Homo sapiens: one gene and its partner. The protein of the gene in region 1 interacts with the protein of each later gene in a pairwise test. Each region holds a gene or a part of one and is shown on either strand. Other genes may lie near its edges.

Region 1 (5,149 bases):
ATTATTACTACTACATGCTCATCACTCCATTCTATCTTCACAGTCCTTGCACCCTCCATTTGTAGAATGTTTTGTAGCTGTCAATTTGTCTTCCTTTCCTTATGTTATCTACAACTTATGCAATTTCCAACACTAGATTTCCAATAGTTCATGGCAGGGCTTGTTTCTTCAATTTCTCTTACAGTTTCACAATACCAATGTGTTTACTTAACAGACACCTCTTAACAAAGATCATCAACTGATGCTGAAAGTGGAGAGCTCTTGGAGAACAGGATATTCACATTGTGCCAAGGAATCACCCCACAGATTACTTCCTAATAACAAAATGGAAAACTTGCCTTTACAATAAAGCAAACTGTAGAAATGAGCACCACACTAATGAGGGACATCATGGACCTCTTGATGTGATCCAATACGGAATACACATCACTCCTCATGAAGTATCAGCATAAAAAATGTTATTCTAAATCGAATCAAGCTTCAGTCTAGACCTAACTTCCAGTTTATAGCAAATAAGAGAAACAAGCTAAAGGACACCATGGACAAATAAAAGTCTAGAAGGTAAGACGTTATATAAGATAACTGACCTGGACTCTTCAAAAAGTGAATGTTTTGCTGGGTGTGGTGGCTCACGCCTGTAATCCCAGCACTTTGGGAGGCCGAGGCGGGCAGCTCACGAGGTCAGGAGATCGAGACCATCCTGGCTAACACGGTGAAACCCCGTCTCTACTAAAAATACAAAAAAATTAGCCGGGCGTGGTGGCAGGCGCCTGTAGTCCCAGCTACTCAGGAGGCTGAGGCAGAATGGCATGAACCCGGGAGGCGGAGCTTGCAGTGAGCCGAGACGGCACCACTGCACTCCAGCCTGGGCGACAGAGCGAGACTCTGACTCAACAAAAAAAAAAGTGAATGTTCACAAAACACACACAAAAAAAAGGTGGGCCAAAGCTTTTCTGTATTAAGAGACTAAAGAGATAGAACCAAATACAATGACTGAACTTGTTCAGATTCTGGTTCAATCAAATAGCTTTAAAAGATATTTTCAGAAATAATTAGGAAGTTTCAAATATGTTTGTTTACTAGATAATAGTATGCCACTATCATTAAGTTTTTTAAAAGTACTGTCATTATGTAGAAGCATTTCCTTATCTTAGGAGAAACGTGGAAATATTTAGAGTTGAAGCATTATCATAACTCCAACTTCATGTAGTTCAGTAAAAATGTTAAGGGAACAAATATGGCAAAGTACTATCAACTGTTAATTTGGGTGGAAAGTATCCTACTATTCATAGTCCTATCCTTTCAAATTTTCTGTGTTTGAAAACTTTCACTATAAAAACTTCCAGATGGTGTATAAGTCTCATTATAAAACTCATTTTTGAGAAAATAATATGAAAATTCCTTTATAGGGGAAAACATGTAAGAGAATTCTCTAAATAAGTCCAAGTACTTAAATAAAACACTGGATTTGTGGTCTGCAAATCAAGTACCAAAAATTGCTGGTGAGCCTGAGGAATTCTGTGTATACATACCGGTTAAAACATGGTGAACCAGGGTCATTGAAATGTTTGTAAGGGTTTGCTCTAGAGAGAGAACCCATGCAAATCCAACAGAAATATTGCATACAGCCAGTACATGTCATCTTGTTACATCCGTCTAATTTCTGGTGGGAAGGATAGAAAGAGAAAAATATCAAGGCTGTAAAAGCAGAAGAGACAGCACATGCCAAAATGATTCAGTACAACATTGTCTTGGTCCTCTCCCTTTTCTTATGCAGGGTTGAGATATCAATGTAACACACTGATGACTATGTAATTCTTTCTATTTTGCATTAGAAGTAAAATACAGAAAATAGCTAGTGTTACTACAATTAGTTACTTGGCACAATCTCTTCTGACAAGCAGTAGATAAAAATCACACAAGTATAACTGGAAAATGTAGTTAGATTAATATTAAAATGTTTGGATGTAACGTGTGGGTTTTTAATTTTTACAGAAATCTAAGTAAATATTTGGTACCAAGTCCTCCACTCTGTCATAGGGCTAAGGTATGTCAAAAGTGATTATATGGCCAGGTGTGGTGGCTCATGCCTGTAATCCCAGCACTTTGGGAAGCCAAGGTGGGCGAGTCATTTGAGGTCAGGAGTTCGAGACCAGCCTGGCCAACATGGTGAAACCCTGTCTCTACTAAAAATACAAAAATTAGCCAGGTGTGGTGGCTGGCGCCTGTAATCCCAGCTACTCGGGAGGCTGAGGCATGAAAATTCCTTGAACCTGGGAGGCGGGGATTGCAGTTAGCTGAGATTGCACTACCGCACTCCAGCCTGGGCAAGAGAGACTCAGTATCAAAAAAAAAAAAAAAAAAGTGATTACATATAGTCCTAGTTTCCTTAACTGGAGCCCACTATGTTCAGTTCAGACATAACAGATTAGAACAATAGAATCAAATGCTAAGATGTATTTTGATTTTAAAACATATTAAGATTTTTGTCAAGAAGCAATATATCTGTCTAATTATTTTGACTCAAATTAATTCCTGAGTGTATCTTAAACAGGTGTGCAGCATTCCAGGATAAATAGTTCTGAGAGATCAGATTTGATTTTTTTTAATCACATAGATGAGGTAAGAGTTGACCATAGCTCTAGTATGCCCTCCTTACAACCCATTCAATTTTGAGGTGGATACAATGTGAGAACAATGGTCACTGTAAGCAAATACTTTGAAAAGGGAAGTCTACAAACATTTAAGGTCGATAACAAGATCTAATAGTGAAATTTCCACCTTCCACGTAAGAAGGTGTAATAATACCAGCATGTGTTTTGTAAGTCATAAAATTGACTAGTAAGGCTTCTTAAGGTAATCATAACATCCTTGCAAGTCTGATGGCCTCCAAGTCTGTCCCAAAACATTTACCTCTATGGGAGTTCCACAACATGGGCAGCTCTTTGAGTTCTTCTCTAGCCACTCCTTACTTTCCATCTCTTCCAGTGCCTTCTGAATCACTCTCTTACCATACCTTTGATCCAAAAGTCTTTTATTAGCCTCATCCGCTTGCAGGTATTCATTTCGTAAGTCCATTAATTTCTCTACAAAGTGAAATGGAAAATTAACTTTTATATAACTTTGTAATGCTGACCAAAAATCATTAAAAATGGCTATAATCTTCGACTATTCAATAATGTTATTCCTAGAACTTTATCATAAGGAAATAATCCAAAGTCATATGCATGGAGATGCATATAACAATGGCAAAAAAATTAAATTTCTAAGGAAATAATTATGTTTGGAAGAGCCATTTAATGACATAATATTCAATTATTAAAAACATAATTAGGTTCGCTACAACCCAATTAAAACACTCATCACAGAATCCAGAAAAAAAGTATATTTATGTTATAACCCAGTAAAAATTATACTTGCACAAATGATAATAAATGGAAAGGAATCCCCCAACTAGAAAAGATGTATCTGCTAAAAGTGGTAGAATAAGATAGGCTATTTTTTTCCTTTGATTTTGATTTCTTAATGTTGGTATGTTTATGCATCTAGAAGTATGCAGTTAAAGACTGACTTATCTAGAAGACACAAAGGTTGAAACAGACATTGATTTTTCCACTAAGTCAGCACCATTCACTGTTTGATAATGAAGAGGCCTACCAAATACAAAGGCACTTTTGGCTTAAGGGCAAAGACTACCTCTTCAATTCTGTGTAAAAAAAAAAAATCAGTGAATAAAACTTAGCACCCAAGTCTCACCCCGTACTATGCTTTGCTACAGGTGCTGAAAAGTTTTCCCTCGATACTCTTCAATCTGGCTTCTACTGCTCTATCATTTAACTGAAATGGAACAGGTAACCAATCCCAAAGGTTTTACTTGCAGACAAAAGGCTTTTGTTCACAGTTGTATTACCTTAATTTTTCAATACAATTAATTAAAGAGTTTTCTCAACAATGTTCTAGTTATTTTATCAGTTTACTTTCCTCACATTATTTGGAAGTCTATCTCCCTTTTAAAGCAAAAGACATCTTCTGGTATAGAATCCTATATCCTATCTCCACTCTTTGCTTTCACCTGTGAATTCTTTCTCTGTGTAGTACATTCCCACAGCTTCATCACCTCTACTTCAATGTAGCAGTGAAGCAATGTAAATCTCATCCCTCTAATAATTCAATGCATTTTTGTGTTCCTAGGCATCTTAAGGACAAAGGTTATATTGCTTTAGTCTTCCCAAAATAATAAAATTGTATTTCATATTTTATATAATATATACATACAAAGAGAGGGAGAGATTCCTAATTTTGCTAAAGCCCTGAATCTATCTTCAATTTCTTCCCTGAATGCTGTGAAACACTTGAAATGTACTGTTGACTTTTAATGAAAAGGTTACAGAAGTCTAAAGTAAAGGCTTATATTATACATTGCTAAGTTCTCCATTCCATCTGGCCTTACCTTCTGCAAGGTGCTGCCTGAGGCAACTGAAATTATCTACCCACTCTTTCCTCTCATGGTACTTTCTTGGAAATAATGACAGTCTGCTAACATTAGCAAGTAATAACTACAATAATAATAGCATTAATAATTACTATTTTTCTTTTTCCTCTTTTTTTTTTTTTGAGACAGGGTCCCACTCTGTCCCCCAGGCTGGAGTGCAGTGGTGCAATCTGGCTCACTGCAGCCTCTACCTCCCAGTTTCAAGCGATCCTCCCGCCTCAGCAACCTGAGTGGCTGAGACTACAGATGTGCACCACCACACCTCGTTAATTTTTGTATTTTTTTGTAGACACGGGGTTTTGCCATAGTGTCAAACTCTTGGACTCAAGCAATCCGCCCACCTTGGCCTCCCAAAGTGCTGAGATTACAGAGGTGAGCCACTATGCCCAGCCCCATTCTGCATTTTACATGTATTAGCCCACTGTTTCTCAAACTATTTATGGTAAAGGCCCAGTTTATTTTTTCTCTGATACGTCAAAGATCAACACTTTTATAAGATATAACCAGGTTTGCTTGATTTAATTTTTTTAGAAGCAGAGTCTCACTACGTTGCCCAAGCTAGTCTCAACTGAGGCTCAAAAGATCCTCCTGCTGTAGCCTTCTGAATAGCTAGAACTACAGGTGTGCACCACCACAGTCAGCTAACAATCAATTATT
Region 2 (5,149 bases), on another chromosome or scaffold:
TAAATTTTTTGAGACAGGGTCTCACTCTGTCACCCATGCTGGAGTAGAGTGGCACAATCCTGGCTCACTGTAGCCTCGAACTCCCTGAGCTCAGGTGATCCTCCCACCTCAGCCCCCCAAGTAGCTGGGACCACAGGAATGTGCTACCACACCCAGCTAATTTTTGTCCCACGCTGGGATCATCCCACCTTAAAAACTCTCCTTGATAATGAAGATTATCTTTGAAGGCCAGGCGCGGTGGCCAGCCTTGAAGGATAATCTGATATTACTTTCTGCTTTAGATTTCCTGCTTCATTAAGGCAGGAAAAAATACTTTCCCTCTATCCCTTAAATGTGCACACAGTGACTACCGTAAATATTTGTCCATTACTTAACACTTCAAAAAGCATTCCTAAATAGCTAATTCTGCATTAGTTTAATTCTATTTTAGGTCAGTCTATTAAGCAGTTCTACAATAGTAAGGTTCAGTACCTATAAAGGAATAATTTAAAATTCATATTTATATAATATACCAAAAAAGTGGCTTATTTTCTTGCTGCATGCGTTTGCCATAACTGTAATGTTCTTCATAGTATCTTCATATTCTTTATAAAAAAGGAAGTCAACTAACCTAATTTCATTCTAATAGAGACATAGCAGTAACTGCTGGTAAGTATGTACTTATTTGGAAAGTGACTTACTCAAAATTACACAGTAACTGAGTAGTGAAACTAAGCTCTGAAATCTGTTGATGCTGTGAAGGTGTAAGTAATGAACACAGTTTGGCATCACAGAGAAATCATTGGTGTAATTATGTAACTTTTCAGTCAAGAATTAAGCATTTACTAAACTACTTTATAGTTTTTATAGCTAAAGAAAAGAAGAAATATTCCTGAGTTTATAACACAAGGTTACTTTATGTATCATATTTTAAAAAGAAGTTCTCATGTGTATACTTGTGTACTGAGTAAAATTATAATTGTAAATTTTTACTGTTCAAAGATAATCCTTTTTTTTTTTCCTTTTTTTTTTTTTTGTTTTAGCTGGAGTCTCACTCTGTCGCCCAGGCTGGAGTCCAGTGGCATGATCTCCGCTCACTGCAAGGCGCCTCCGCCTCCTGGGCCCAAGGGATTCTCCTGCCTCAGCCTCTCAAATAACTGGGATTACAGATGCGCTCTACCACGCCTGGCTAATTTTTTTTGTATTTTTAGTAGAGACTAGGTTTCACCATGTTGGCCGGGCTGGTCTCGATCTCCTGACCTCAGGTGATCCACTCACCTCAGCCTCCCAAAGTGCTGGGATTACAGGCTTGAGCCACCATGCTGGCCTATTTTCTAACTTTTAATTATGTTGTAACCCTTCCATACTGACATCAACAAACAGACGTCGTATCTAACTGTCAAGGCAACATGACTACTACAACAGTAATGTCTGTAAGAGTCCATGTTCCATCTCTCTCAATCACTATAGCCAATTACTTGAGCAAAGAGCAGTGGGCTGGGGGCAATGGCTCATCCTGTAATAATCCCAGCACTTTAGGAGGCCAAGGTGGGCCGATGGCTGAGTCCTGGAGTTCAAGGCCAACTTGAGCAACAGGGAAAAAACCCATCTCTACAAAAAATAAAAAAATTAGCCAGGCATGGTGGCGTGTCTATAGTCCCAGCTGCTTGGGAGTCTGAAGTGGGAGGATCACCCGAGCCTGGGAGGACAAGGGTGCAGTGAGCCAAGACCACGTCACTGCACTCTAGCCTGGGTGACAGAGTGAGACCCTGTCTCAGAGAGAAAAAATTTTAAAAGCTGTGAATAATCCAAAATAATGCATTATTTCTAAGTCTGAAAATAAGCACACATTCATACTTTATCTCCTGTTATTAAATCTCAACCTCCTTCCATCCCTACAAATTGACAGTTAACAGTCTAAGACCCAGCTAGGTAAGAGAGGAAGTAAATGCAGAAATTTCACAAGGGTAATTCAACTGACCATTTCTCTCAATTATATCACTGTTTTTAGAGTTGACAAACATCAACTACTATGCACTGACTTTCTAAGATCTTAAGACACAACGTAACAGGAGGTTTTATCTAAAATTAACAATTCTAGAATGTCAAATTAGAAAATTAGACAGCATATATGTTAAAATTGCTAACTTACGAGAAGTCTGAATGAAGCAGTTAAATTCTAAAATCAGAAATTATATCCAGGAGGTCAAGTACTTCATAACATTAAATAATACATAGGAAAGAAAAAAGGTTATAAAATTTAAAAACACGGCCGGGCGCGGTGGCTGACGCCTGTAATCCCAGCACTTTGGGAGGCCGAGGCGGGCGGATCACGAGGTCAGGAGATGGAGACCATCCTGGCTAACACAGTGAAACCCCGTCTCTACTAAAAATACAAAAAATAAGCCGGGCGAGGTGGCAGGCGCCTGTAGTCCCAGCTACGCGGGAGACTGAGGCAGGAGAACGGCATGAAGCCCGGGGATTGGAGCCTGCAGTGAGCCGAGATCGCACCACTGCACTCCAGCCTGGGCGACAGCGAGACTCTGTCTCAAAAAAATAAAATAAAATAAAATTTTAAAAAAGCATTTAACAACAACAACAAAAAATTCAATTTTAGGATTCACCTGAGAAAAGAATACCTCAATACTGCTACACTTTCAAAAATGTTTAGAATCACATAAAAATTCACTTCAATAAAAGAATGCTTCTGCAGTTTGGGGATAAAAGTTTCTACCAAATAATCAGTCCCTAAAACGCTAAAACTAAAAATTTGCTACAAGAAACTTTTCATGTAATATTTAAAGATTTTTAGAATTACCAAAATTAAATGTAGATCTGTTTAACTCCTATCAATTTTAGGTATCACCACAAATATAACATTCTCTTAATGATGGTTTCTTAAGACTGGGCACATAGGCTCACGCCTGTAATGCCAGGATTTGGGGAGGCCAAGGCAGGTGACTGCTTGAGCCCAGGAGTTCCAGACCAGCCTGGGCAACATAGTGAAACCTGTCTCTACAAAATACAAAAACCTGTAGTCACAGCTACTCAGGAGGCTGAGATGGAAAAGATCACTTGAGCCCAGGGAGGTTGAAACTGCAGCAAGCCGAGACAGCGCCACTGCACTCCAGCCTGGGTGACACAGTGAGACCCTGTCTCCAAAAAAGAAAAGGTTTCTTAAAACATAATTTAACTGTAATCTTACTTGGTGATACATTACTTTTTTCTAGGAAGAAACAATAGGAAGGAAAAGAAAAAAAGAAAATGAGTAAAGAATGTCTCAAAGGGATCACATAAGTCTGAAAACCACTATCTTGAATTGTATATGGCAGAACTCTAGCAATATTAGGGAGTAGAGCGTCCCCAGCATTTACAGGTGTGCCAGAATATTGATCTCCCATCCCGGGAGTTTCATGAGGTGCTGCCTGCCAGGTGCTTCTAGCCTCCCAATCTCATCTACTTTAGTGTACTATTCAAAACTTACTTTCTATGTGGGCAGAACCTAAAAGATGGTTGAGACGCACTGACAGAATACATTAAAGCAGTTACTAGCTCAACTTTAAAATACATACTCTCCAATAAGAAATTCAAAGTCTACCCTTACTTGTTTTACTCATTACCAAGTAATGAAATCCCATGTTACATTTGTATAATATGGCATTTTAAAAAAAATACAGTTCCTCTTAGAGCTTAAGTAACTTCAGCAGCAGCAGCAACATCCTGGTGTGGGTTAGATAAATCTACTAAAAGCTTTTTGGGTTAAGGACATGGTCATTCCATGTTACAGCTTATTTTTTCCTAATCGAAATCCCCAAATGATCAATTTCCTAGTCTTCTTCCATGCTTTTTCTCCACTGCACTATCACCTTCTAATATAATAACACACTTGGCCGCGTGCAGTGGCTCACACCTGTAATCCTAGTACTTTGGGAGGCCGAGGCGAGTGGATCGCCTGAGGTCAGGAGTTCAAGACCAGCCTGGCCAACATGGCAAAACCCAGTCTCCACTAAAAACACAAAAAAAATTACCTGGGCGTGGTGGCCAGCGCCTGTAATCCCAGCTACTCAGGAGACTGAGTAGGAGAATTGCTAGAACCCTGGGAGCGGAGGTTGCAGTGAGCCAAGATGGCATCACTGCACTCCAGCCTGAGCAACACAGCGAGACTCCATCTCAACACAAAAAACAAGAACAAAACACAATTAACTTAAATATGCTGTTCTTATCTGTCTCTTCTTATGAGACTATTTATTATTAAATCCATGAGGGCAGAAATCTTGTCTGCTTTTGTTCATTGCTATAACCACAGCAACTAGATAAGTGTCTGACACATAGAGGTCCCCCAAAAGATAACTGGCTCAGTGAATAAACAAAGTTGATAATTTTATTGAAGATTTATGTATAATCTAGTTGTCTTAAAAGAGCCAAATGTTGCCATTAAGATAGTCAGGATATAAATTCTGTATAACAAAGATACAGAATAACCACACAGAAAGTAGGGTTGTCTTTCAAAAAGCTTGACATATATATTAAAATATTCTTAAAGATACTACCAGCAAATCTGCACTAGATATTTTAAAATACAAATAAAAAGGGAAAGACTTTTCAATAAATATAGGAAGCATCCGTTTTCCATTCCTCTAACCAGAAAACACAGAAGAATAGAGAGTGATAAGATTTCGATGGAACAAGGTGAAGGAAAAACTTAAAAGGGTGGTAAGAGTCTGAGATAGTAATACTTAGGGCACAGAAAAATGCACTATTGCACTGTCAATCAAGTATTTGTTTCCAATTCTTAAGACATCATGTAGGCCAGGCACGGTGGCTCACACCTGTAATCCCAGCACTTTGGGAGGCCAAGGCAGGCGGATCACCTGAGTTCGGGAGTTCAAGACCAGCCTGACCAACATGAAGAAACCCCGTCTCTACTGAAATACAAAATTAGCTGGGCGTGGTGGTTCATGCCTGTAATCCCAGCTACTCAGGAGGCTGAGGTGGGAGAATCGCTTGAACTCGGGAGGTGGAGGCTGCGGTGAGCCAAGATCGCCCCATTGCACTCCAGCCTGGGCAACAAGAGCGAAACTCCATCTCAAAAAAGAAAAAAGACACCATGTAAAGTTCAAGTTCAAGATTACCAACCTCTCTCTTACAAACAAATCTGCCTTTTCCAGAT

The links.
Region 2: the proteins of RNF14 (region 1) and UBE2W interact in a two-hybrid assay, tested with the Homo sapiens proteins (one large-scale study listed by BioGRID and IntAct).

Annotation. Positions count from the first base shown.
Region 1 is NC_000005.10:141,981,317-141,986,465, reverse strand, and holds part of RNF14 (E3 ubiquitin-protein ligase RNF14), read right to left. Parts: intron 3,087-5,149; coding exon 2,914-3,086; intron 1,664-2,913; coding exon 1,533-1,663; intron 1-1,532. UniProt on the Homo sapiens protein: E3 ubiquitin-protein ligase that plays a key role in the RNF14-RNF25 translation quality control pathway, a pathway that takes place when a ribosome has stalled during translation, and which promotes ubiquitination and degradation of translation factors on stalled ribosomes.
Region 2 is NC_000008.11:73,871,901-73,877,049, forward strand, and holds part of UBE2W (ubiquitin-conjugating enzyme E2 W), read right to left. Parts: intron 1-5,149. UniProt on the Homo sapiens protein: Accepts ubiquitin from the E1 complex and catalyzes its covalent attachment to other proteins.